4 linked regions of the Homo sapiens genome follow. The protein of the gene in region 1 interacts with the protein of each later gene in a pairwise test. Each region holds a gene or a part of one and is shown on either strand. Other genes may lie near its edges.

The links.
Region 2: the proteins of OCIAD1 (region 1) and MMD interact in binary tests that used the Homo sapiens proteins (3 or more experiments, as listed by UniProt).
Region 3: the proteins of OCIAD1 (region 1) and SLC30A3 interact in binary tests that used the Homo sapiens proteins (3 or more experiments, as listed by UniProt).
Region 4: the proteins of OCIAD1 (region 1) and FXYD6 interact in binary tests that used the Homo sapiens proteins (3 or more experiments, as listed by UniProt).

What each region holds. Positions count from the first base shown.
Region 1 is NC_000004.12:48,826,643-48,834,103, reverse strand, and holds the start of OCIAD1 (OCIA domain-containing protein 1), read right to left. Parts: upstream 3,017-7,461; 5' UTR 3,003-3,016; coding exon of another isoform or gene 2,963-3,002; 5' UTR 2,855-2,962; exon of another isoform or gene 2,583-2,854; coding exon of another isoform or gene 2,573-2,582; intron 1,485-2,572; coding exon of another isoform or gene 1,480-1,484; coding exon 1,422-1,479; intron 704-1,421; coding exon 623-703; intron 1-622. UniProt on the Homo sapiens protein: Maintains stem cell potency. Increases STAT3 phosphorylation and controls ERK phosphorylation. May act as a scaffold, increasing STAT3 recruitment onto endosomes. Involved in integrin-mediated cancer cell adhesion and colony formation in ovarian cancer.
Region 2 is NC_000017.11:55,397,814-55,404,837, reverse strand, and holds part of MMD (monocyte to macrophage differentiation factor), read left to right. Parts: intron 1-290; coding exon of another isoform or gene 291-387; exon of another isoform or gene 388-524; intron 525-969; coding exon 970-1,071; intron 1,072-3,299; coding exon 3,300-3,369; intron 3,370-7,024. UniProt on the Homo sapiens protein: Involved in the dynamics of lysosomal membranes associated with microglial activation following brain lesion.
Region 3 is NC_000002.12:27,253,174-27,260,061, reverse strand, and holds the end of SLC30A3 (probable proton-coupled zinc antiporter SLC30A3), read left to right. Parts: intron 1-1,127; coding exon 1,128-1,309; intron 1,310-1,731; coding exon of another isoform or gene 1,732-1,754; coding exon 1,755-1,901; intron 1,902-2,003; coding exon 2,004-2,157; intron 2,158-2,709; coding exon 2,710-2,908; intron 2,909-3,168; coding exon 3,169-3,274; intron 3,275-3,541; coding exon 3,542-3,676; intron 3,677-4,601; coding exon 4,602-4,750; coding exon of another isoform or gene 4,751-4,976; 3' UTR 4,977-6,378; downstream 6,379-6,888. UniProt on the Homo sapiens protein: Probable proton-coupled zinc ion antiporter mediating the import of zinc from cytoplasm into synaptic vesicles and participating to cellular zinc ion homeostasis in the brain.
Region 4 is NC_000011.10:117,873,655-117,880,678, reverse strand, and holds the start of FXYD6 (FXYD domain-containing ion transport regulator 6 precursor), read left to right. Parts: upstream 1-4,020; 5' UTR 4,021-4,087; intron 4,088-7,024. UniProt on the Homo sapiens protein: Associates with and regulates the activity of the sodium/potassium-transporting ATPase (NKA) which catalyzes the hydrolysis of ATP coupled with the exchange of Na(+) and K(+) ions across the plasma membrane.

The sequences.
Region 1 (7,461 bases):
CTTTGTTAAATAGTGAGAGTATATTTTGTATACTGCTTCCAACAATCTCTGTATTTAAAAAATACAATCTTGATATATATATATACACAAATATATATATATTTCTTTAATCAGAAATCAAGAGCTGGTAGTATAACAACATTTCACAATGATAAAATGGGAACTAATCTGCTATTATATAATGGTTAAAAGCATTAAGAGTAAAATCTGTTTCAGACAGACCTGTTTTCAACTCCAAACATCGTAATTTATCACCTGTGTAACACTAAGTGTTGCCATTTAACATCTCTAAACCTCAATTCCTTCACCTGTAAAGTGAGGGTAATAATAGTTATCAACCTTATTGGGTTGTTTTTATATAATCTATGTACACACAGTAAATGCTAACTATTACTATTATCAACAAAATTACCTCATGGTTTTGTTAAAAATCTGGAAATAATTACTTTAAAATGTGTGCAATTCCTTTATCTCCTTAATCTCTTTTAACAACAACCACACTATGCAAAAAGTTTGCCAATTTGTTCTATACGGAGTTATTATAATTTCAGGTTCAAATTCAAGTCAAAATTTCAGGTACAAATTTTGGATCAAATTATATTAATTAGAAAATTGAACTCACATCTGAACCAGAAGCTTTCATCATTGCATTCTGCGAAGACTCTCCTTTCTTCCTCTGTTGGAATGTAATCAGGCCCTATGTCTTTTTACCAGGGAAAATCAGAAAACATTAAATTATCCATAATAAAACTAGGTCTGAAAAATTATCTTAGCCTAAACATTAACAAGAGGCACCCATTTTTTAAACTCAAATAATAAAACAACTGGCTTATGCACTTTTTTTGTTTTTTGAGACAGTGTTTCACTCTTGTTGCCCAGGCTGGAGTGCAATGGCGCGATCTCGGCTCACTGCAACCTCCACCTCCCGGGGTTCAAGCGATTCTCCTGCCTCAGCCTTCCGAGTAGCTGGGATTACAGGCACCCATCACCACGCCAGGCTAATTTTTTGTATTTTAGTAGATACGGGGTTTCACCATGTTAGCCAGGCTAGTCTCGAACTCCTGACCTCAGGTGTTCCACCCATCTCAGCCTCCCAAAGTGCTGGGATTACAGGCATGAGCCACCGAGCCAGGCCACTTATACACTTTCAACAAACTTTGACTTCAAATAGAATTAATGCTACTATCTGCTAGTCAGGACTGGCTACCTAATGTGCTGGGCCCAGTGCAAAATAAAAACGTGGGACTCCTTATCCAAATGATTATGAATTTCAAGATAACAAGACTAGAACATGAAACCAAGTATGGGGCGCTGTCTGCACATGCCCATGAAGCCAGCCCACCTGCCACTGTTACTCAAGGCAGTGAAAATTCCTTTACATAGGAAGTGCTTCTAATTATAAATACTTAATAGATAGTTACGGGGAATTGGTCTTGGAACCTCTGCATTCGGCTCTCGAAAATCAGCCCTCCCATTCATCTTTCCTGTATCAAAAACATTACATATTAAGTATTAGAAACTATCACTAGATAGGTCAAAGTAAATCAAGACGTATGATATAGTAAAACTACTAGTCTACACAGCAATCAATCAACAAATATTTATTAAACACTACTATATCTTACGTACTCCACATGTAAATAGCTAGATGAAAAAGTAACAGACCTACTGATTAATTTGGAACTCACTATTCAGGTTAAGTCCCTTAATTGAAAAAGCATATGCGTTTTATAAGTTTATAATTTTTTTTACTATCAAGATATCAATAAAATAACAGACATATTTTTTCCTCCTGGAAGTGGGTTCTTTCACATCCTATGTTTTGGTCGTTTCTCGAATCTATGCCCAATGATTAGGATAATTCCCCAAAATAGAAGAGAAAAAAAATTTCAAGTCATTTCTGAGCTTCCATATTAAAAAATGAAATAATCATCAGAAACATTCAACCTCTCCCACAAAGGAGCACTCCAAAATTATGGAATAACAAAGACGACATATCCTTCTCCCTGTGAGGTAAAACTAACAGCAAATTCTGTATCTCCAAATTTCCTTCCACCCCAAGAATATAAGAAAAAAATGCATAAAATTCCAAGAATATACATTTTTTATTTGGTTCTTTTTTTAAAAACTCATATATTGGGACTCAGACCAACAGATCAAGTAACCGTATTTTACAGAACGTTTACGTGGGATCATGATTATTCTCATTTTAAAAACAATTTGCATGGAAACAGGAAATGGCATACACAATGAGGACAGCAACTGAGCCCTTCCATAATTCATTCAGTCAATAAGCCATGAAGGCCTACTACATGCCAACCCCTTAATTAGAGAAAAGAAATAAAAAAGGTCAGCTGAATTCATGGATGGATGGAGCCTGCTGAATAAACTACCTTTACCCTACAACCGTATGAGAAAAAATGAAACCCTCTTATTTCCCATAACGGCATCCTTCCTAGAAACACCAGGAAGACTGTCAGGGCTGACACGGCGCTTAAGACAATACCATTTTAAGTTCTTTACACAAAACAACGCTGGATTAAAGCCTAAGCGGCCTACAACCGCTGATTACCGCACTCCATCCTCCACCCAGTGTCCGTCTCCCACCTGCCGTTACAGACTGAGCAGCAACCCCACACGCATCCGTGACCACGAACTTCCCCAGCTCACACCCCCAGAAGCACTCCGTCGCCTCCCGCAGTCACCGGCACTCAGGAGGCCGAGACCCGAGCGCGATCTGTCCACCCTCACAGGCAGGAAAATGGCGGAAGGTGCGAAAGTCGTGGATGGCCGCAAAGGTGGTGAGGGGATACGCGGAGGGCAACAACGGGGCTGTTTGCGTCACCTCACCCACCTCCCGACGACAGCAGCAGGCGACTGCAAGGAAAACCAAGCGATCAGGGGCAGAAGGCCCGGAGGGTGGACTCGAGAGGGGGCAGGGAGGGAGAAAAGTGCAAGGTACCGCGGGGAGGGGGAGGGGTAGAACAGCCGCAAGAAGTCATCCAGACAGGGGCTCAAAATGACCGCGACCCGGAGGCACTGTATACTTACGGCAGGAAATGACGTCAGACCTCACTGCGGGTCTGAGAGCCAGCAGCCTAGGAATAGACGCATGCGTATACTCGTCCCTTTGCCCTTTCAGGCAGCTGCGGCCACGAGCCGCACTGCGACTGCGCAGGCGACAGCGGCGGACCAAGAACCCTGCCCCGCCCCTTCCCTGGATGGCGGGGAAGGGGGTTGGGAGTAGGCTTGACTTTGGGCTGTTGTGATGCACCTCTCTGGTCTTCTCGTGGCGGCTGGCGGGAACGTTCCGGAACCCTCTGTTGTCCCTCTTTTGAGAGCGACTTTATAAATTATCTCTTTTATGAGATAATTTCATTCTTTGAGCCTGTAGGCTAAGTAGTAGAAAGTAATTTTTAAGCATGCATACCTGGTTATTTGTCACACCCTCTTGATCCAAGTTTCCAACAAGTTCTACAACCTCTGGCAGGGTACCGTGATCTCTCTGAGGCTACGGTTTTTCTCACCTGAAAAGTGGAATTACATATAGGGTTGTTAGAATTAAAACAACACATCACTGTCTATTAATGAGGGGGCTCACGACTTCTACACATCAGACATGGTGCTGCCACACCCAGCCAATCAGCATTTTACTCATTTTCATACATTCCTTCCTGAAGTATTTATTAGTGCCATGTACTGCAAGTTATTAGTGACTAAACAGTGGGCAAATCCAGTCCTACTATTTGTCAACCCCTCAAAGCCTCTCAGGTTTCTCATCTCTTTCTGAGCCCCTTTGCCACTTTATCATTTAACATTTATTCTCCCGAAGACATACTTAAGGGAGACAGTCACGTGAAACGAATCCAACGCTGTGTTTCCTTCCTTGGAGTCTTTTGATAGCTCCAGTCATGCACCGAATATAAGGCCCATCATGGCCTGGTGGTGCCTGTGCCTTTTGAGCGTCACTTTCTTCTATTTCAGGGTTCACTAACAAGAAACAGCCTGGAGGTCTTTGCCCTCAGTGTTCTCTGTGCACTGTTTCCCCAGTACAACTCTACTCCCTGCTTTGTCAATTCTAACGATATTTCAAAATTCTGCTTTTACATCACCACCTTTGTGATGCCTTCCCTGAAATACACCCCAGAGAAGTAATCACTCTTCCTTCTTAGTCCTTAGCTTGTCCATACTGCTGTCACTGCAATGTACTTTTGCACTGAATAGTGATCTTTTTTACTTACGTCTGTCTCTGTTACAGAGCTCCTTTAGGACAGAGATGTTGGCTTGTAAGTCTTTATAGAACCAAATAAATCCCTGAGATAATCAGTATTAGTAACTAATACTCATTTTGTTCCTGGGACAAGCTAATTTACTTCTGGGCCCAGGGCTTGTGCAATTGCTGTTCCCTCTTCTAGACCACTGTTCTTCCAGATGTTCAACGTGGCTTTTTGTCTGAGACTTCAGTTGATGTCACCACATCAGAGAGGCATTCCTTGACCACCCAATTAACATGGCACCCCAGTCACTCTCCATGTTACCTTGCTTATTGTTTTCATAGTATTTGTTATGGTCTAAAACAATGATTTGTTTGTGTATTGTCTCTCTTCACTAAAAAGGTCTATGACAGTAGGAGCCGTATTTGCCTAGCATCAGTGATTGGCACATGATCATATGAAGCCAACAAATATTTCTTAAATGAATTTGTTGAATGCATTTTTATAGGAGAAAAAACAAAAATAAGAAAATTAAAAGACATTCTAGAAGAAACAAAAATAAAAAAATTAGAAGACATTCTAGGTGGTGAGCTTTATGTTAAAGCAAAGTTTTTTGTTGTTTTTTTTTTTAGGACAGGGCCTTGCTCTATTGTCTAGACCGTAGTACAGTGGTGCCATCTCGGCTCACTGCAACCTTCGCCTCCCAGATTCAAGCAATTCTTGTGCCTCAGCCTCCTGAGTAGCTGGGACCACAGGTGTGCACCACCACGCCCAGCTAATTTTTTTATTTGTAGAAGAGACAGAGTTTCACTACTTTACCAGCCTGGTCTCCAATTCCTGGCCTCAAGTGATCTGCCCACTTTGGCCTCCCGAAGTGCTGGGGTTATAGGCATGAGCCACTGCACCAACTTTAAAGCAAAGTCTTTTTCTTTGCTTCCTGACTAGATTGTAAGATTCCAGAATCCAGTTTTATCATATTCTTTATACTTACTGAGCCAGGCCTAACACATAGTGTGTCCTAAATTGGTGGGTTCTTGGTCTCACTGACTTCAAGAATGAAGCTGCGGACCCTCACGGTGAGCGTTACAGTTCTTAAAGATGGTGTGTCCAGACTTTGTTCCTTCTGATGTTCGGACATGCTCGGAGTTTATTCCTTCTGGTGGGTTCGTGGTCTTGCTGGCTTCAGGAGTGAAGCTGCAGACCTTCGCAGTGAGTGTTACAGCTCTTAAGGCGGTGCATCTGGAGTTGTTCATTCCTCCCGTCTGGAGTTGTTAATCCCTCCAGGTGGGTTCATGGTCTCACTGGCCTCAGGAGTGAAGTTGCAGACCTTCACAGTGAGTGTTACAGCTCATAAAGGTGGTGCAGACCCAAAGAGTGAGCAGCAGCAAGATTTATTGCAAAGAGCAAAAGAACAAAGCTTCCACAGTGTGGAAGGGGACCTGAGTGGGTTGCCGCTGCTGGCTCAAGAGGCCTGCTTTTATTCCCTTATCTGGCCCCACACACATCCTGCTGATTGGTCCATTGTACAGAGAGTTGATTGGTCCATTGTACAGAGAGCTGATTGGTCAATTTTGACAGGGTGCTGATTGGTGCATTTACAATCCATGAGCTAGACACAGAGTGCTGATTGGTGCATTTACAATCCTTTAGCTAGACACAAAAGTTCTCCAAGTCCCCACTAGATTAGGTAGACACAGAGCACTGATTGGTGCATTTACAAACCTTGAGCTAGACATAGGGTGCTGATTGGTGCATTTACAAACCTTTCCCTAGACATAAAAGTTCTCCAAGTCCCCACTAGATTAGCCAGACACAGAGCACTGATTGGTGCATTTACAAACCTTTAGGTAGACAAAGAGTGCTGATTGGTGCATTTACAATCCTCTAGTGAGACATAAAAGTTCTCCAAGTCCCCACCAGAGTAGCTAGATACAGAGTGCTGATTGGTGCATCTACAAACCCCGAGCTAGACACAGAGTGCTGATTGGTGCATACACAATCCTCCAGCTAGACATAAAAGTTCTCCAAGTCCCCACCCAACTCTGGAGCCCAGCTGGCTTCACCTAGTGGATCCCATGCCGGGGCTGCAGGTGGAGCTACCCGCCAGTCCCACGCCACGTGCCTGCAATAGCACATGGTAGATTGATAAGTCTATTTTCTGTTGCCCCCTAATTTCTCAGCAATTAATCAATAAATTGAGTTTCTGTTGATAAAAGACTATGAGCTCCTTCTGTGGGAACATATAGGATTCTAAAACATTCAAGTAAACTGTCACTTTGCATTTGTGCTGGCATTTAGAGGTTATTGAGTCTTTTGGTAATTTGGGTAATGCAACAATCAAAGAATTCAAACATAAATTGGGCAAGATCCAAAGACTTGCGGGAAGTCGATACACATTTGCTAGAGATGGGCTGTAGGATTTATTAGCCAACTCAGACTAATGTGTTCTAATCTGGAATGGTGAGATCACCAGAAATCGATCCACCTGGATTAAATTAAATCAACAGTCTTCATGATACCTCCATTGAGTTAAGATCTAATGAAATGTACCATAAGAAATTTCCACTTATTAGACATCACTTAAAAAAATTAATAATAAAGGGATAATTTATACTCATTAATGTATATAAATGAAATCAATGTAGTGAACTTCTACTTCATTTCAGTGTCAATAAAAGATTTATTTTCAAATGAACGCTTGAACTTCCATAATTGATAATTATTCAGCGATTATTCAAGCAATCATTATTCAATAAATTATTATTCAGCATATTTCTATTTATGTTCCATTAGAGCAGAACTTGTGTTTTATTAGTTCACCAGACTATCTAGTTTAACACATATTTATTATTCAAAATGTAGTGTCATAGAAGCCAAAGGAAAAGAATCTTCTAAGAAGGAAGAAATGGTCAATTATATCAAATGCTGGTAAGGATGGAGAACTATCCATTACATGCAGCAATAAAAAGGTTATTTATAACTTTTGCAAGTGTAGTTTTATTAAAATCTAGATTACAATGGGTTGAGAAAAGAGTGATTGGAGATAATGTGAGGAAAAGTGTACATTACTCTTTCTGGAAGTTTAGCTGTTTAGAGAAAGCAAGATAGAGTGGTAGCTGGAGGAAAAAATAAAAATGGATGAAGGTTATTTTTTGTTTTGGGTTTTTGCTTTTATGATTTTTAATTGACATAATAATTGTACATATTTATGGGGTACAACATGATATTTTGAAATATGTAAGTGTGT
Region 2 (7,024 bases), on another chromosome or scaffold:
TGCCTGCCTTGGCCTCCCAAAGTTCTGGGATTACAGGTGTGAGCCACTGTTCCTGAACTTCTCATGTATTCTTAATATGAAATTAGTACAAATGAATTTGCAGCATTTTAAAATTCAAACCTCACAACAGTCCATGGTTAAATTCTACCAAAATGTCTTCCATAATACATGTTAGGAATAATTCTTCTCATACTCTCTCTTGGCAGAGAGACTGATAATGGAGACACACTTGGTTTGTGTATTAGGTATCCACTGTGGGTATCTGATCCTGCGTCAAAATTTTGTTCCAGGTTCTTCTCATTAAGGTTTGTAAGTAATCTGCTCCCAAATACATGGTCAGAAATTAAAGGGCAAGCAGTTTTGACCTCATTCTGCCTAATAGGGTAAGTTAGGCGTCATAAGAGTGCTGGGACTCCCTTCAACTTGTCTGCTTTTAGCTGGTTCTATTTTTAAACCATGTTGAAACTAATTCTTTTTTTTTTTTAGGTGGAGTCTTGCTCTGTCGCCCAGACTGGAGTGCAGTGGTGCAATCTCAGCTCACTGCAACCTCTGCCTCCCGGGCTCAAGCAATTCTCCTGCCTCAGCCTCCCGAGCAACTTGGATTACAGGCACATGCCACCACACCTGGCTAATTTTTGTATTTTTAGTAGAGATGGGGTTTCACCATGTTGGCCAGGCTGATCTTGAACTCCTGACCTCAAGTGATCCGTCTGCCTCGGCCTCCCAAAGTGCTGGGATTACAGATGTGAGCCACCACTCCCGGCCTAATTCTGAGTCTTAAAGGTCGACTGACAAATTTGTTTTTGAGTTGCTTAATTTTACCTAAATTGCCCAAATGCCTGCTTGATGTGTTGAGTGTGTTTTCTTCCTGCTCTTATCCTAAGACTTTCTCAGTTTTCAATGACACAGGTTCTATGAATTCCCTTCATTTATCACTTCTGTTCTTTGTTGTCACGTTTACATTTTTAGGTTAAATCTTCGTGAACTTGGACCCCTGGCATCTCATATGCGTTGGTTTATCTGGCTCATGGCAGCTGGAGGAACCATTTATGTATTTCTCTACCATGAAAAGTAAGAGAAAATAATTTACATTTGATAGTTTTAAAATTGACTGCCTAAATATTATCTGCACTGCAATACAATTTACTTTTATTTGTACTTCAAAACAGTAGAAATACATATATAGAATATGTTATTTTTAATAAATCTTCAAAACCATTTGGTATTCATTATTAGTGGAAAGATTGCTGTGGAAAAACAAGAGTGGTACAGGTTTGGTATAATGTAGTTGAGGGGACATGGTAACCAGCCCCTTTGGAGTCCATCAGACTTCATTTCTATAGCATGAGGCAAATTGGCCTTATTCTCTGTGATTCAGTCATCACGTGAGAAAACCAGCCACTTGTCAAGGTGTCTATGAAGATTGGAGAGAATAGATATTAAGTGCTCAGTACAATATACCTAAATAAGGGCCTAGAGGGTATTCCAAAAAGGGTATCTTGAGAAAAAGGATGTTGGGAAGGACATTGGAACTCTTAATATCCTATCCCTAGGGCACAGCTTTTTAGCCAGTTATTCATAGCTGATAGTCCTAATTATTGAGCCATATAAAAACAAAAGCTAATTGAAATTTAGTATCTTTGCTCTAGAGGAGACCTTCAAGGTCCCCTATTCCAACTTCATGATTAAAAAGTCAGAACATTTAGGATATGCATCAAATTAGTGACTCATCTGGAAATTAGGACCCAAACATCCAAGTTCTGATTCCATTGCTCTTTTTATTACCCTGTATGTTTGAATTTGAGAAACACACAACCAGGAAATCTTTGTCATTGGGTTTATTTACAGTTCATTAAATTCTGTATCTATTGTGCTTGGCAGAATGGCTCTCAGAATTGAACATAATTTGTGTTTATCAGAAAATACTAAATTGTTTTCCCCTTTCAGAAGAAGAAAATGGTAGTTTTCACTAACTTCTTTTTGTCTCTGAAATTCACTTAAATACCTTTTTGACCATAATTAGCAATGCTGAGTAGTGTTATATATTATAGCATATTTAAGTCCAAGGGAATGGTTTGCTTCTTGGACTCAAATCTCTTATTTATATCCTTGGATAAAATAGGAAGTCAAGAAAGGCAACTATCTTTTCTCCTTTTCCCGGCCTTCTGGTGTAAACAAAACCCATAAACCCATTCTTCCCCTATCTGATTATTTCATGGTAGGCTTTGAGTATAAAACACGATGAATGAGGTATGAGTCACCCTTGGCCATTCAGTTTGGCAGACATTAGGGAGTACCTAAATTGTATCAGGTACTGTTCTAGGATTTACAGATCAAAACATAATTAATCTTGGTTCCTGCCTTTGAGGAGCTTATCGTCTGGTTTGATTAGGCTGAAATGTAATTTGAATTTCAATACAATGTATTTCTTAGGGTTTTTAGATCTTTTGTAGTCTAACGTGATGAGCCTTAAAATTACAGTTTGTGCAGGTGCAAAATAAAGAGACAAACAAAATTACACGTCCTTTCCTTAGGGCTTGCTGTTCCTTTTTGCTGATAAACTAGGCTCCAGGCTGCATCTCCATTCATCTTCAGAATTTCACTTCTAGCTCTGGATTGGAATGGTAATGAAAGCAGACACTCTAGGATCAGAAGAGGAAATATTTTACAAGGTGGAGTGGGTTAAACGATAACTACTTTTGGCAGAAAACATTTTCTTTTTTTTTTCTTTTCTTTTTTTTTTTTTTTTTGAGACTGAGTCTCGCTCTGTCACCCAGACTGGATGGAGTGCAGTGGTGCGATCTCGGCTCACTGCAAGCCCCGCCTCCCGGGTTCACGCCATTCGGGTTCACGCCATTCTCCTGCCTCATCTCCCCGAGTAGCTGGGACTACAGGCGCTCGCCACGCCCAGCTAATTTTTTGTATTTTTAGTAGGGACGGGTTTCACCGTGTTAATCAGGATGGTCTCGATCTCCTGACCTCGTGATCCGCCCGCCTCGGCTTCCCAAAGTGCTGGGATTACAGGCATGAGCCACCGTGCCCGGCCGGCAGAAAACATTTTCTAGGTGGCATGTGGGATTTGATGCCTTTTCAACCCTGAGAGAAATGCTAGTTCCTTGTTACTCAGCTACTGTGTTTTAGTTAGAGGCCTAGTGGTTGCCTACTGAGAAATAAAGTTTTATTTGAATAGTTAAGAGTTTACATTTCTTTCTCAAAAGTAAAAAGGAAAGGCTGGTATGTAAATTGTTAGGTGTTATAGAAATTTATAAGTTAAATTAACTGCATTTTTGTTCCTGCAGATATAAGGTGGTTGAACTCTTTTTCTATCTCACAATGGGATTCTCTCCAGCCTTGGTGGTGACATCAATGGTAAGACATGGCTTCAGAATTTTAGTTATTTTCTTTTAAGCTGCTGGAACTTAACATGATTATGGATATGATATGTAGCTTTTCTTTATAAAGTTATGTCCATTAAATAGAGGCTCAAAAGAAAAAGAACTTATAAATAATGAAGTGTTTAGCTTGGCATGGTGGCATGTGCCTGTGGTCCCAGCTACATGGGAGGCTGAGGCAGGAGGATTGCTTGAGCCCAGGAGGTTGAGGCTGTGGTGAGCTGTGTTCATGCCCTACAGCCTGAGGAACAGAGCGAGACCCTGTCTCAAAAAAATAATAAAAATAATGAAGTGTGCCAGCAACTCGTAAGCTTGCACTAGGTACCGTGTACAGTTTGGGAAAGCTATAAATTCAGGTATGTTTCTGTCTTTATGGTACTTTCCTGAATCAGAACCAGAATAGGTTCAGAGAGGTATTTTTCAAATCCCTTTACTCTTACTTTTCCTTTCCCTTGCTTTTAAGTCGTAAGTCAAGCACTTTTTTTGTTTGTTTGTTCTGTTTTCTAAGGCAAGCACTTTTTTTTTTCTTTTACTTTGCTTGAAAATATCTTTTGGGGATTTTCGTGGGTAAAGTGTAACATTACCTGTAATAGGCAGTTGCATGTATATATTTGAATTCCCTTTCAAATTGAATTACTGTTGAGAAGTCTGTGTGTGTCTGTCTTTTTGAAATGAAAATATATTATTACGACTTCATGGTTCCATCCACCTGGTTACCAGCCCTTTAGCTTATATATTGCAGTATCTTAGGCTCTAGGCACTATATTAACTAAGGAGGTCCCAAGGTGTTTCGTTTGAACCCTTCTGAGCCTACATTGTTCAGAAGAACTGTACTTAGGATTTCACTCCTAATCTCATAGGCACATTGTAAGAACCTTTTTTTTTTTTTCTTTTTTTTGAGACAAAGTCTTGCTCTGTTGCCCAGCTGGAGTGCAGTAGAGCGATCTTGGCTCACTGCAACCTCCGCCTCCTGAGTTCAAGTGATTCTCCCACCTCAGCCTCCTAAGTAGCTGAGATTACAGATGCGGGCTGCAACCCTTGGCTAATTTTTTGTATTTTTAGTAGAGATGGGGTTTCACCAAGTTGGCTAGTCTGTTCTTGAACTCCTGAGCTCAGGTGATCCACCTGCCTCGGCCTCCCAAAGTGCTGAGATTATATGCGTAAGCCATCACGCCTGGCTGTAAGAACATAATTCTGTGATAGTTTTTTTCCTGGTCACAAAAACACCTATAAAAGGTTTAAAAGTTTCAAATCTGGTTCTGTTTTTTCAGGGGATGTCTTCATGAGAATATAACAAAATATATTTCTTTGAGATACGAGGTTTATGATGGCTTTAATAATTACCTAGCACCCAAAATACATATAGATGGTAAAAGCAACAGGGAATGGTAAGGAGGAGGAGTTAAAGGACAGAAATGAGAAAATCAGCCTTGAAGGCCATATAGTTAGAAGGCATTTCAGGACACCCCAAGCAATATAAGCAAGGTTTGTGCAGCTTAATAGAGTAGAATTTCAAGCAAATTCCCTCTGGGTATCATAAGAGCAGGTTTATCCAGTAATTTTACTAGCCTAAATTTGAAATTGACATTTCCATAAGTGGTACAATAGCAGGTGACTAATGTTTGTGATAATCAAGCAGGATGATCCCCCACACTGCCTTCATAGAACTTAGAGTCAAGCAGGCAAATGCAGTTCCTATTAAAGAAAAAGAGATCATGAAATTTGATAAAATATTTGATGGGGGAAAGTTCAGGCTGCTATGCGAACATGACAGAAGTACCAGAGGAAGTGATATTTCAGCTGATTTGGAAAAACATGTAGAAGCTGAGAGATGGTAGGGGTGAGGCAAGTGTTACAGGTAGAGAATACAGCATGAAGGAAGCCCAGAGAAGGGGGAAGCACCAGCATCTTTGGAGAAATGAAAATAGCTCATTGTTTGTAACATAAAATACATGTACCAGCTTGAGTTATGTACATATGCATGGTGGGGGCAGGTATGCAGGTAGCACAAGTCTTGTAATAAAGCTGGAGAGCTAGACAAGAGTCCAGATCACAAAGGACCTCAAAAGCCACTAACACAGTAACAGAATGAATGAAAATGCGAATCTTTGGTTCTGGCCAGAATCATGGGTCTCAGACTTACCCTTCTGCCATAAAGAACTGTAAAACTAGAAAAAGAATAAAGGCAACTGTTTTTTTGGCTCTGAACCCAAACAGTACAGGACTGTGATCCTTGAAGGAAGAGAAACCAAGAAAATGAGCTTTGAATTCACCCCAGTAGTTTCCCTGGAGACACTTTCCAAACAGCAACAAAAGGAGGTAAAGCCCAGAGAACAGCAGCCTGGGTGGAGGAAACAGAAATTACAGTTCAGGTTACTGACATGGCTGCAGTTTGTGGGGCAGGGTATGGAAGAGGAGGAAGCCGCTCAGGGAGGATGCTTCAGAAATCCATGAAGCAGTTTCCGTGAGTCGTTGTCCAGATATCAAGCTGAATGTTGTACGGGCCAAAACTCTGCAAGCTCCAGTTGCAAATAACTCTTAGAAGGCTGGAAGATAAATGGAAATTCCGGACAGTTCCCAGTGCTGAAAGACATTGAAGTTCCAACCAAGCAGAGTTCAGAGATGGTGCTGGACATCCCAGGCACTCAGCTGACCCTGCCAAGGCCACAGCTTAGGAGTAGAGCTACTCTATCCCTAGAGGGAGGGCTACTCTAGAACTGCCATAACAAGGCCCAGACAAACCTTGAAAGGATAAAATTGATCCTCCAGTAAATAAACCGCCTAACAGAACAAAACTCAACAATTTTTAAAGGAATACAACAGAATCTTTACTGTAACAACTTAGCATGTACCATAAGTAAATATTATCAGAAATAAATCAATAATAATGTAATAAAATAAATAATAAATATATAATAAATATTACCAGATGGGCAAGAAACTGGAAAGTGACACATACCTAAGGGAAAACAGATCAATAGACACAGATCAAAAGACGGGAGAGATACTGAGATTCACACACAGGGAGTTTAAAACAGATGAGGAATCTCAGAAAATACCTGGAGACTATGAAGAAGAATCCACATGGAGATTCTAGATCCGAAAACTGTGATGTCTTAAGAAAAAAAAATTATTGGAGGGATTTAATAACAGATTGGATATTGCAGAAGCAAAGTTCAGTGAACTTGAAGCCAGGTCTGTAGAAACTATACAAACTGAAGCATGAGAGAAAAGAGTGATTTAAAAATGAACAAAAGAAGAAAGAAATTGGGGCAGTTTTTTGTTTTGGGTTTTCTGTTTTACAGTTTTTCTTTTCTTTTTTTTTTTTTTTTTTGAAGAAATAATAGTTACAACTTTTCCAAATTTGATGAAAAATATCAACCTAGAGATCCACAAAGCACGAGGAGGCCTGAGCAGTATAAACACAAAGAAAACTACACTAAGACACATTAAAGTCAAATTACTAAAAAACAAAGGCAAAGACAAGACCTTAAAATCAGCCAGAGAGAGAAAAAAGAGCAAGGAGAGAAGATGACCACTGACATTTTATCAGAATTCATGGGAGCAGGAATACAATGTAATGGCACATTTAAAATGCTGAAAGGGTCCGGGTGCTGTGGCTCACGCATGTA
Region 3 (6,888 bases), on another chromosome or scaffold:
ACTCCACCTTCCCTTCATACTGCCTTGGCGTGCCTGGCATAGCATTCACCTGTCTTTATCAAAATCCTTCCCATCCTTCAAGGCCCTTCTCATGTTACCTCTTACAGCTGTTTCCCTGATTTCCTCGTTATAATTAGTCTGGCCCTCCATCCTCAGAACCCTGATAGCACTCTAACTGCCCTAATGACAGTGGCCACCTTCGCTCTATATCATTGTGTAGGTACATGCTTGCCCTGTTCACCAAAAGCTCTCAGAGATCAGTAGGAATCCTGCTCATTTTGGGGTGCCTAGCATAAGAAATTGGTTGGGGTCTAGTCTCAGCTCTAGCAACTAACTGGGTTGGCCTCCATGTGTCCCCCAACTCTGTGAGCCTCATGCCTCTAATTTATTTAATAAAATGTTAGATGAGAGCCGGGTGCGGTGGCTCACACCTATAATCCCAGCAACTCAGTAGGCTGAGGTAGGAGGATCGCTTGAGGCCAGGAACTCAAGTGTGCAGTGAGCTCTGATCACACCACTGCACTCCAGCCTGGGCAACAGAGCAAGACCCCATCTCTTTTTTTTTTTTTTGAGACAGTCTCTCACTCTGTTGCCAGGCTGGAGTGCAGTGGCACGATCTCGGCTCACTGCAACCTCCAACTCCCTGGTTCAAGTGATTATCCTGCCTCAGCCTCCCAAGTAGCTGGGATTACAGGCACGTGCCACCACACCCAGCTAATTTTTGCATTTTTAGTAGAGATGGGGTTTCACCATGTTGGCCAGGATGGTCTCGATCTCCTGACCTTGTGATCTGCCTGCCTTGGCCTCCCAAAGTGCTGGGATTACAGGTGTGAGCCACCACTCCCGGCCAACCCCATCTCTTAAAAAAGTTAGACTAGACCGTCTGTAAGGTGCTTTCCAGCTGTGAAATTCTATGGCTCTGTGTATGGAAGGAAAAGGGAGGCTGGGCTCTGACCTGTTCATTTAGCCCCGGTCTCTCATGTGGCCCTCTGCCGATGCAGCTCCCAGATACGACCAGGCCTGGGGAAGGAGATGGTCTGATGAGGCCAGCACTGGGGACTAAGGACGTGGAGTGAGCAGGCCAGCCTGTGGGCCAGGCCCAGGTTGAACCATGTTGCTTGCCTCAGTCTCTTCACAGAGCCCTCAGAGCCCCTCCCTGAGGAGTCCAAACCTGTGGAGATGCCCTTCCACCACTGCCACAGGGACCCCCTTCCGCCGCCGGGCCTTACCCCTGAGAGGCTGCATGCACGGAGGCAGCTATATGCTGCCTGTGCCGTTTGCTTTGTCTTCATGGCTGGGGAGGTGGTCGGTAAGTTGGGGAGCAGCCCTTAAACCCCATTCTCCAAATACCTGCCCAAGCCACTCTCCACCCAGAGTCCCAGGAATGTTCCTGGGTGCAGATGCAGAGATGGGGATGGCTGGGATAGGGGAGCTGGGTGCCCAGGACTCAGGAAGTAGGAGGGATAAGGGACAGCAACAAAGGGAATTCCAGCCGAGGTCCGGGGCCAGTAGGTCAGGGCTGACTTCTTTTAAAAACCCTATTTTCTTGTTATTAAAATAAATCATTGTAGAAAATAAAATACAGATGAATGAAAAAAATAACATAACAGTAGTTAATTATACCTGTAGTCCCATCACCTGAGAAAACCCCAAATCACATTTTTGGTGTATATCCCCCAATTTATTTTCCATGCCTATACACACTACATGATATTTTCTAAATGGAAGCAGACTCCATCATTTCACCCTGGCAGGCGGGTATCTGGCACACAGCCTGGCCATCATGACCGATGCAGCCCACTTGCTGGCGGATGTGGGCAGCATGATGGGCAGCCTCTTCTCCCTCTGGCTCTCCACCCGTCCAGCCACCCGCACCATGACCTTTGGCTGGCACCGTTCAGGTAAGGCCCCTGCATGGCCCAGTGACTCTCCAATCTTGCCAGAGGGCACCCGTCAGGGTCCCAAGCAGGTCTCTGACAGCTTGTCTCCCCCCCCACCCGCAGAGACTCTGGGGGCTTTGGCCTCTGTGGTCTCCCTCTGGATGGTCACTGGCATCCTCCTGTACCTGGCCTTCGTCCGCCTGCTGCACAGCGACTACCACATCGAGGGGGGTGCCATGCTGCTGACCGCCAGCATCGCAGTCTGTGCCAACCTGTTGTACGTCCCAGTATGGAGCAGGCACCTTGTGGGGCCCAGGGCGAGGGGTCTTCCTCCAGGATGGGAGAGCTGGCTCTCTCCTCCCCACCAGACACACAGACACGCACACACAGCTCTCCATGGGCTGCCCTGCGTGTGCCTGAGAAGGGTCTGGGATAGAGACCTAAAATTCAGTCAGCAGATCTCTGTCAAGGGCCTGCCATGGGCCAGCCACTCTGATGAGGGCTTTCATCAACATGATTGCATTTAAACCTCACAGCCACCCCATGAGGTAGGTAGCATTACCCCTAGTTTACCATTAATGCAGTCAATCCCAACAGGTGACTTGCCCAAGTCACATATCTATTTAAGTAACAGGGCCAGCTTCCGAATCCACATGTGTGGCACCAAGTCTGGTATTCTTTCCCCCAGGCTGCATTGTTTATCTCTCTTGCAAAATGCTGTTTTCTTCCAGGGGCTGGGAAAGGGCTACTGGGGAGGTGAGACATGGAGATGGGGGTATAGGAGGCCAGGAGCAGGGCCCTAGGCTGAGGTGCTCTGCTTACCCCTCAGAATGGCCTTTGTGCTGCACCAGGCTGGGCCCCCCCACAGCCACGGGTCTAGGGGAGCAGAGTATGCACCGCTGGAGGAGGGGCCTGAAGAGCCCCTGCCCCTGGGGAACACCAGCGTCCGGGCGGCATTTGTGCACGTGCTGGGGGACCTCCTGCAGAGCTTTGGGGTACTGGCTGCCTCCATCCTCATCTACTTCAAGGTACCATCATTGGAGACCTGCCCCAGCCTTCCTCCCCACAACCACATCCCAGCCCACTCCTTCCCAGGTCCCAAAGCTTCCTTCCTCCTCCCTCCAGCTCCTCCCTCCCACCTCCCAGGACTCTCCCAGACATGAGTCATGTTCCCTGTCCCCTCTTCAGGGTTTTGAGGGGCCTCTCAGGTCATGTTTGTTCAAGATACCCCTAGATCTTCCTCTGAAAGGTCCCTGGTTGTTGGGCTTAGGGGTCTCTTTCTCTGCAGCCTCAATACAAGGCAGCCGACCCCATCAGCACCTTCCTCTTCTCCATCTGTGCCCTTGGATCCACCGCTCCCACCCTCCGAGACGTTCTTCGAATCCTCATGGAAGGTGAGTCGGGCACCACAGCTCCCCATCCCTGTGGCCCTCTCTGACTTTACTCTCGCAGTGGGCCATCACTTTTTTCTTTGAAGATAGTACGGGAAGAAGGCTTGGCTCATGGGGTCTGCTGCTGGAACAAGGATTTGGGCATAGGGTGAATTGTAGGGGTCAAAAGGAGAGTGCATACAGGATAGGGGAGGTGGAATCCAGTGGTGGGGGTGCTGCTTCTGGGCAGGAGTAGCCCTAGCAGTAAGGCATGACTGGTGCTGGTTGCAGGTACCCCCCGCAATGTGGGGTTCGAACCTGTGCGGGATACGCTGTTGTCGGTGCCAGGAGTCCGGGCAACCCATGAGCTGCACCTGTGGGCCCTTACGCTCACTTACCATGTTGCCTCTGCACACCTGGCCATCGGTGAGTCACACTGGCCCCAGCTAGTTACTACCTGGAACATACCCCACCCCAAACATGGGACCATAGCTTGAGTTACTGGAATTGTTTCAGTCTTTTTTGATCTGTCTCTGTTTCTCTGTGTCTCTCTCTCTCACATAGACACATACACACACACACACATGCACGTGCGCTCGTGCATGTTGGAGACAAGGAGTCTCCATCCACTGGATGCAGTGTTCTGGGGGCAGTTTCACCCTCTTTGAAGTAGCACAGGGAACCAACAACCCTTTAAAAGATCATTAGTACCTACAGGTCTAGTGATGGGGCACAGTTAGGTAAATTACAGCACCTCCACCCTGAGGTATCACATAACTGTTAAAAATGATGCTTGTGAAGACTGTACAGCAACTATGAAAAATGTTTATGGTATAATGCTGAGAAAAAAGCTGAATATAAAATTGCATCTACATTATGATTCAACTATTAAAAATATATATGGTGAGTCATGAGCTGACAAAGGATTTTTGAGTTTCTTCCAGATGCAAGAAGCAATCAGAGTCATGCAATTTGTATGCCAAAAATATTATAATTTGTGGGATATTTGATGGAAACTCTAGAGGGACAATGAGACAGATATTTAACAACTGGATTGTCCTGGGAAATCGGGTGGTATGGCTGCTGAAATGTTGAGCTGTATGTTGACACTTAATGACAGGAGAGAATAGGAGACTGGAAAGAGTTTAGTGTGTTAGCATGGTTGATTGGGGTGAGTCTCTCCAACATTTGATTTGACACTTTTATGCTGTTCATACAATACAGAAAGAAAAGCAGGCTTCCATTCACGCCTGGCTTTAATGCTGTGCAGCCCCTTTCCCTGTCCTTATCTCAGTCCCTGCCTGTTCTTTCTCCCCCGGGATGGATGCCGCCTCTTATCACTCTCCCACAGACTCCACCGCTGACCCTGAAGCCGTCCTGGCTGAAGCCTCATCCCGGCTCTACTCCCGGTTTGGATTCTCCAGCTGCACCCTGCAGGTCGAGCAGTATCAGCCGGAGATGGCCCAGTGCCTGCGCTGCCAGGAACCCCCCCAAGCCTGAGCCATGGCCCTGCCCTCACCCCACTGCCAGGCCGAGGCTCAGCCCCAGACTCTCAGCATCTGCTGCCCTGATCACAGAGACGGGACCGAGCCAGGTCCATACCCCTTCCTCTCTCCCTCCTACCACCTGCCAGTTTCCCCAGCCTCAGCCCCAGCCCCAGCCCCAGTGGGCAAGACCAAAGTGTGGCGGGGAGTGGGGTGGGAGTCAGGGGAATAGATGTGACTAGTTCAGGGGCGGGGACTCCCAGGCCTCAGTGTGGCAGGGTGTGTTGAAGGCCTGTGGTGCCATCTCCCCATGGTTCATGTGGAGCCACGAACATCCTTTCCCTGCAGTCCATTTGTCTGTGTGGCAGGCTGGCTGGCTGGGGGCATCTGCCTGTCTATGTGCTGTTGGTGTGCCTATGCCTGGGGGAGGTCAGTAGGGGCCCCCTCCCCACATGGCCCTCGCTCTGTCTATGCAGGGGCCCCAAAGCCCGCACTTTGTCCGTGTGTCTTAGCCCTGTGGTTTTGTCTGTGTGTGTGTGTGTGTGTGTGTGTGTGTGTGTGTGTGTGTTCTTGGTGCTGTGGCCTGTGTGTCTCTGTGCCTATGTGGCTGTGCTATGGTTTCTATGAGTCTGCTCCATCCATGTGTCTGTTTGGGGGTCTATCTCTCCATCCCTCTGTTGGTGCTGTGCCCTTGGCTATCCCTGAAAGAGGGAGGACTCCGCTGCAGCTCCACCAATAAACTTGTGTCTCACTGCATCTTTCAGCCTGTGTGCTGACTCCTCAGGAGGGGGAAGTCAAATAGGTCACTTGAGAACAACAGAATCCCTCCTGTCCCTTCCCAGCCTCTGGAGTGACCTCCCACAGACCTCCTGTCCCTTCCCAGCCCCTCCACCCTCAGATGGAGGGTAAAAGCCACCAGTCTCTTTACTCCCCTTCCCCTGGCTCACAGCATGCCTGGGTCCTTGGCTCAGGGACAGTCCCATGTGCCCTGGGCTTGGTTGCAGGAGAATGCTGGAAGGTAAGGAGCCAAGGAATCCCTGGGAGTCAGTCGTTCTCAGAGGTCCCTGCATGCCAGTGGGCCTCAGGCTGGCTGGAGGGAGGCTGGGTCCCTTTGAGGGAGAATGGCTAGACCATAGCACTGATGTGGGCTTGGTTCTCAGGCCATCTAAGGTGTCCAGCGGTAGGGACCCCTCAACCCTGATAGCAGCCAACCCTGAGTCCAGGTTTAGGCTGTGAACACCAAGGACCTCTTTTACACCTATTCCCCCTTTGTCTTAAGAACTGCATATTTTGACACATTAAGTCTTAAAATCAGGCTCATTAAGGGATTGTTGATTTTCTCTTTAAAAAAAATCAAACTCAAGCTGGACATAGTGGCCTGTGCCTGTAATCTCAGCCCTTTGGAGGCTGAGGCAGGAGGATTGTTTGAGCCCAGGAGTTCAAGACCAGCCTGGGCAACCTAGGGAAACCCCTGTCTCTACAAATAATTTAAAAATTAGCTGGGTGTGGTGGTGCATACCTGTAGTCCCAGCTATTCAGGAGGCTGAGGCAGGAGGATTGCCTGAGCCCAGGAGGTCAAGGCAGCAGTCAGCCATGATCATGCCACTGCACTTCAGCCTGGGCAACAGAGCAAGACCTTGTCTCAAAAAAAAAAAAAAATCAAACTCACTGGGTTTGGTGGCTCATGTCTGTCATCCCAGCACTTTGAGAGGCTGAGGCAGGAGGATCGCTTGAGGCCAGGAGTTCAAGACCAGCCTGGTCAACATAGTGACACCCTGTCTCTACAAAAAAAATTAAAAATAAAAATAAATTAGCTACGTGTGGTGGTGTATGTCTGTGGTTCCAGCTACTCAGGAGGCTGAGGTGGGAGGATCACTTGAGCCCAGGAGGTTGAGGCTGCAATGAACTATGATCATGCAACTGCACTCCAGCCTGAGCGACAGAGCAAGACTCCATCAAAAAAAAAAAAAAAGAAAAAAAAAGAAAAATCAGCTAGGCAAGATGGCTCACGCCTGTAATTCCAGCACTTTGGGAGGCTGAGGCAGGCAGATCACTTGACCCCAGGAGTTCAAGATCAGCCTGGGCAACATGGTGAAACCCTGTCTGTACAAGAAATACAAAAATTAGCTGGGCATGGTAGTGTGTACCTGTAGT
Region 4 (7,024 bases), on another chromosome or scaffold:
CATTTACAAGGATTGGAGTGATGAGGGTGATGGGGGGAAATAGGGCAGGGAATGGGTCACGAGATGAAGCAGGAGAGGCAGGTGGGTGTCAGGTTGTAAAGGCTGAATGTCGTGTTAAGAATTTTGACTTTAACTCGTAGAAAATACGGAGCCATTGAAGTTTTGAATCGCATTTGTATTGGGGAAGATAACTCTACCTAGAGGTAGGGGGACTGTGGCAGAGTCACCAGTGAGAATCTGATGCCAGAGACCTGACCTAGAACAGGAGTGGTGGGCAGGAAAGGAGGCACTGGGGGAGAGGTCTGAGCGTGGCATGTGTTCTGCAGGGTAACTGGATTGGGGGCAGTGCCATTCATGAATTCAAAGAAGACATGAGAGGGAACGGCTTCAAGCCGTGAGAGGATGGATAGGGAGTGGACTGGGAGGATGGATTGGGAGTGGGCGGTGCTGACTCCCTGGGATTACTTGCCTGGGTCTCCTGGGGAGAGGACCGGGCTGGATATTGTGGACTCATCAAGCCTAAGCGGGTGGTAAAACCCTGGTTGTGGATTTAGATTGTCTAGCAACTGCATAAGATGACCAAGGACTCAACACAGCTGCTTGAGGGAGAAGTTGGAGGAGTTTGACAAAGAAAGGTTGGAGAGAGAGGAAGGGACCCAGGATCAAGGAGTGGTTTGGAAGTGAGCAGAGCTGTTTCAGCCAAGGAGCTAGGAAACGATTCTGTCCTAGGGGTTGGGGGTTTGGCATTTGGCTGAGTGGGGAGGACACACATTCACACCTGTGCAAAGCCAAGTGGGTATGCATGGACACAAAGTAGCAGTCAGTGGGCAAGATCGGCTCCCTTCTGCAGCCCCACCCCAGGATGAAGTGGCACCCCACTAGAAGGGATGCCTGCTAGGAGGGGTGAGGGTCTCTTCTAAGACTCCTGGTCTCTCCCCTTTAACTTCCCCTTTAGGCCCTCCATGTCCGGTGTGACCAGGACACAGGAGGTCACTCTGTGACCTGTCCGTGGCTGTGTGACCAGGGCACTGACATGCGGAAGGGCTATTTTGCTGCAATACAAGGGGACCAGGGCAAGTCCTCTCCAGATGGGATTTTAGCTGCACATTTGTGAGTTACTTAGCCCAGAGCAAGCTTCAAAGCATAGAGCAGTCCCTGATGCTCCCAGCAGTTATGCTGTCCTCTCCAGCTCCAGGTCTTCCCATGGTTCCAGTTCTGGCGGGTGGGGAGTATTTCAGGAATGGTTTCCACCCTTTCTTACCCTACTTTCTCCATGGCTGCGCAGCCCTGCCCTGGATCTTTTTTTGTTCTTTGGGCTTGTAAAGAAGCAGGATTCTTTAGTGGGGATCAGGCTTATTTCTCAGCTTCATGTTAGTGCTGCCCCCACACAGCCCCCTGAACCCTGACTTGCAGGGTCCACCAGGAACATCCCAACCCAACCTCTCACCAATTCTTGCTCAGAACAGTTTTCATGATGCCCATCAGTGCTTCCCAGGATAAAAGCTGGAATCACCAGGAATTGTTGGGCCAGTCCCACCCTGGCTCCTTTCACACCATGCCCCTTCTGCCTCAGGGCCTTTGCACATACTGCTTCTGTTCCAGAGGCAGAATCATCTTCCCACCCTGACATCCCAATTCTTGGCTCCTTTACCTCATCTTCTTAACATCTCCTGACCTTTCTCAAATGCTATATCTTCAGGGCTCTGAACTGTGTTTTAATTACACGTTTATTCATGGGAACATTTGCTAAATCTCTATCTCACCCAGGGACCACATCTTTCCTCTCCACAGTATATCCTCAGATCTTGGCCCAGGTCTCAGTGAAGAGTAGCTCCTCCTGTCCATACGTGGTTGAAAGAATGGAACAGCTGGCGACCTCTTTTTATGAATGCCCACATTTTTCACAGGGGGTAGATGTGTTTATTTTCCTGCTAGAAGGGAGATGTGACTCACCCCAGAACAAGCTTGCGTGCTGCTTTGTAGCTGTAACACCCCAAATTCTTCCAGCAGTACCCTTGGATGGAACGTGATGAAGCACTATTTGAGAGTTAAGCCATGGCGGTTTCTCATGCACATTTAGTTCCTGTTATCCCTCTGCAGCCTGGGCTGGTCAGCATTAGGTAGGGGGACCTGGGAAGTCACTGGGCCAAACACTTCAGAACTCTCTGGCTGGAAATGGGGTTGAACCAGAAGGTGGCTTGGCTTTGGAGTTCTGAACTATCCTTTCCCAAATAGGCTTGCAAAGCCTGGGCTTGACGTGTCATCACTAGTAGGTGCTCTAAAAAGCACAGAGAGATGGCCAAAAGGCAGGATTCAAGGGCATTTGGAGGGATGAATGTACCTGCCTAAGGACATGGGCCTAGAAAGGGATGTGGTTTTAAATCTGCCACCTAGAATACATGAAAAGGGAAAACGACAGTTGGAATGCTGTCCTCAGTTTATAGAGGAAAAGACAGGAACGGCAAAGGGTTAGGCACGCAAATAGGCAAGATTTGAGTCTGGCTTTGGAGAAGGAGCTTTAGCATTCACAGGAACCCCAGGGAGTTCAGGACTGGGCCAGAGTGGCATCCATTCAGCCAGGTCCCATGATTAAGGGGCCAGAACTATCCCCTGAGGGGAGGCTTTTTGGGTGCTCTTTCTCAGTAGCTATTTATGGTTCCCCTACTGGTTCCAAAGTCTTCTTGAGTTCATGTATATTTCCTGCCTTGGGGTTTTGAGACCTGACCTTTTATTAAAATAATTAGATCATCTAGGGCAGAGCTGGAAGAGACCTCAGGATCATCTAGTCCATCTCCCTATTTTCCCAAATGAGAAAACAGGCCCAGAACTGAGGGCAGCAGAGGCAGGGCTAGGTTTCTTCCTAGCAGTACCCATCATCCCCGGCTTGGGGTTTGTAAGGAACTCTCCGTGGCCCTACCTAGGCTTGGACAATCACAGCCTTTCTCAGTAGCTCCTCCCTCCACCCGGCTCGGCCATACACACACCTTGACTGAGGCTGGACAGCCTCCATCTCAGCATGGCTCCTGGCTACTGACACTTGTGCCTGGCCTCTGCCCCTTCCTACAAGCTCTGCCCCTAATAGTAAGAGCCAATTTCTTGAGCACTCACTATGAGCTAAGCCTCCCATGGGGTCAGTCTCTAATCACCATTTTCCCACGTGAGGAAATAGACTCAGGAGCTGAGTGCAGAGATATGCTCCAAGTCGCGTCACAGGCAGGGTTGCCGAGCCAGGATTTATTTACATCTTCACATTCAAAGTTCGTCATCATGAATTTTGACTCTTGGGGACTGGGCTGAGGACGGGGTGGTACTGCTCCTGGCAGGGCCAGAGGTGGATGGGGCTTGAAAAGGGGGTTCAAGGCAGCAGATCTATGGTTCAGGTAAGGACCATCCCCCCAGCTCCCCACCTGGCTCTAGCTGAAAATGACAACTACAACTGGAGCTGGCTCCTGCGCCCACGACACAGCCATTCATGCTTTTGGTGCACATTCCCCTTAATTACCAAGGCTCCCAATTAACGTGGGCTGCTGTGTCTGGTGCTGGGTTATTTTCTCCTATTTTTCCGTTCCTCGGGGTTTACTATTGCAGAGAGACACCAGGTCTGTCATTGTGCCTGTCTTGCTCCCTTCCCACCCTAACCAGAGGGAAACCGAAAAGCAACAGCTGATGGCAAATCCGCTCCGGCGCTTGCACGCCTCCTCGGCGGCAGTCTCCTGTTGCTTCTCGGAGCTTGACTGCCCTTTGGAAAAATCTCTCCGCCCCTCGAGAGGAGAGAGGAGCAGAGGACGCGCGCGAGCACAGAGCGGGAGGACGGACAGGGAGAGGAGGAGAGGGGGTCTGCGCGCGGCCGCTACCCAGAAGCCAGCGGACGGCAGCACGGAGTGGGCTGTCCCCGAGCCCAGCCCCGAGCGAGCCCCCCCCCCGCCCCCGCAGGACGCGCCTCCCAGCCAGCCCGACTCCTAGGAGGAGGGGAGGCGGGAAAGCAGCTCAAGCCTCACCCACCGCCCTGCCCCCAGCCCCGCCACTCCCAGGCTCCTCGGGACTCGGCGGGTCCTCCTGGGAGTCTCGGAGGGGACCGGCTGTGCAGGTAGGCGGCTGGGGAGGTGGGCAAAGTTGGCTCCTTTTTCCGAGGAGGGGCGAGGCTCGGTGGGGACCGATCTCTGGAGCGCCGGGAGCGCCGGGTTTTGTGTGTTCAGTGGGTGTGTGCGGTCCTCCGCGGTCAGCTGCGCCGCGGTCCCCGCCTGGGCAGCGGGAAACCGGGCTGGGGATGTAAACAAGGAGATCGGCGTCGGAAGAGAGAGGAGCCTCTAGGGGAGGCAGGCTGTGGCGCTGGGGGTGACGCTGGTGGCTGGGAATTGCTCTCGGTGCTGCCTTGAGCTTGGGGTCAGGGTTTTCAGGAGAAGGGGAAAGGGCTGCGCCCACCCTTTATCCATGAGGAGTTTTCCCTTTGTTACTTGGAAGCTGTGGACACTTGGTGGAGCGTGGGGAATTACGGACGAGGGCGTGTGGCTGGGTGTGAGTGTGGACTTATGAGCGACACAAAATGGAACTTGCTGGTTTGGTGCTTGGGGAAGGTGGGGCTGGGCAGTGGGCACAGGATGGGGGCGCAGGGAAAGAAGGATTCTAGCGCTCGGGGATTCATGAGAGTGCATCATTTTTTCCCTCCTTCTTGTCTTATCCATCCAATCCTGTTTCCTTTCCGGGGGGCCCTGGGGTCCGCCATTGCCCCCTTTCCCCAGCAGGGCTGGCCCTGGCAGAGCCTCCCCTATTGTGTCTCCCGGGCTTCCGTGGAGAGTTGGGTGTGCAGCCTGGAGCTCCCAGCGCTGGCTTCTGGCTCTTACAAGTGGTGGCTGGTAGAGGAGGCACCCGAGGGTGGGAGCTGGGAGCAGCCTCGCTGGAAACATGGGTCTGCCGCGTCACCTGCTGCAAGCCTGCACGCTCGCGGGACCGTGGCTACTGGAGGCTTCTCCCCACCAGTGTGCTCTCTGCCACTACTTCCTTTGTCTCTGTGGCTTCGTGCTGTCTGGCTGGGCTAAGATTTCCAGCTTTGAAGATGGATCAGTGGGCATCTCAGGCCCTCTCTGAAAGGAGCCCCCTTTGGGGATCCAGCCACCCTCATATTATGGATGTGTATGTCTACGTCCGCAACTTAGCCTTTTGCACGTGACTTGCCTGGTCGTTGCCATGGAAACTCCTCCATTTCTCAGCCTCCCTCTTTCTCCTGCCCATTCCTCACCTCCATATCTCCTCCCCTCCCCCCAGTATGGTTGCCTAGATACTGGTTATCCCTGGCTAGGAGACCTAGATATCTGGCTCCTACACCCAATTGCAGTGGCCCCTTACTCACACCACCCACTTCACACACACTGCACATCACCAACACCACAAACACATACAGACATATACCACACTACGCAATCAACACACCCTCACACTCACACCACACATACATATACATCATACCTATACACACATACACACCAAACACACCGCATATATACCGCACCACCACACACCAGCTACAATGCTACACTGACACCCTACATGCGCACTGTGCATGCACACACACACACACAGTACATCTAAATAAGTCTCAGGCTGGGCTGAGGCAGGGGAGAGAGAGGGCAGTTTCCTTCCTTATCCAGCCACCTCCCTAGGGGTGTGGAGGGGAAGAGATGGAGGCTCAGGAAGCCCAGAAGGAAAACCCTAACATCTCCCTGGGAACCCTGCAGAGGAAGGTGGAGGGAAAGGCACTGCCAGATTCCCTCAAAAGAGGAGCCCCTTCCCTAAACCTGGAAGGGAAGGTTGGATAAAGAGTGGGCGCAGCCCTTTTCCCTCCTCCTCAAAGCCCCAGTCCGGAGCTCCAGGTGTTAACGAGAGCCATTCCCAGGTGCTGGGCTCCAGAAGCTGGGCACTGACCAGAATTTCAATCTCTCCACTGCCGCTGCTCTTTTCCCTGACCCAGAGAAAGCCTGAGGCTCTGGGAGTCATCCTCACCAGCAGAGGATCAGGCCAGCTCTGGGACCATCGGAGGCTCTGAGCCCTAACAAAGGAGAGAAGGAAAAGTGGTTACTGTCCCAGGAAAGCCAAGGAGGCCAGGCCAGGGAGGCAGGAAGGGGAGGGAAACCAGAAAGAGGGAAGGAGAGGGGCCACAGGAGTCAAGAAAGCGAAAGTTAGGGCTACCCGCCGTTGCCTGGGGTTCAGGCCACCCTCTCTTCCTGGCACGTTTTCCTGCTTCCCCCCTGGCTCCTCCAAACAGATCTGTGCATCTAGGAGAGGAAGCGGGTGTGCAAAGGGCTCTAGGCTTGCCAGGGTTCTCCCAAGACGTGTGGCTTCTATGGTTGACAGACGGTAGGCGCCTGGGGGAAGCGTTTCCTTCCTGGCTTCCATCGGATCTTCAGACTGACCTGAGGACCGATTTCATTCAATCATTCAAAGAACTGTTTTAAGTGTCTACTGTGTATTAATTGCTGGGGACATGAAGGTGAGGAGGGAGACACAATCCCTGACATCGGAATCCTAGGTTTCTCAGAGCCGGAAGAGGCCTTGAGGGAGCATCCAGTGGGAACACAGTGGGGGAAACTGAGGCTCAGCAGTCACGTGGCCAGTAGTCGCTGAGGCCTTCTAACTCCTCGGCCAGGATTTTGGCCTTCACACTGCCTGTCCTGCAACCCTTGCTTTCTTTTCTCAGTCACCATCAGAGATGGTGGGTTGATGGAAACCTATGGAGGGAGAGCCTTTGGTCGGCTGGTGACTGGGACGCCCTTCCAAAGTGAGGGTCCCTTAGTGGGCGGGTACAACCGAGGAGCCTGCTTCACTATGTTTTCTTGGAAGGCGAGGCTGGAAGCTGTGGCAAGGAGATGGGGGAGAAAGGGCAGTTTCCTAGACCCTGGAAATTTCCCGACAGCCTCGGGGGAGTCCACCCACCGAAATCTCCCCTAAATAAGAGCACCTCCTCTCTTCCTCCCAACCTTGTTGGACTTAGTCGGCCGCCATCTGGATGGCAGACTGTGCCAGGCAGCCC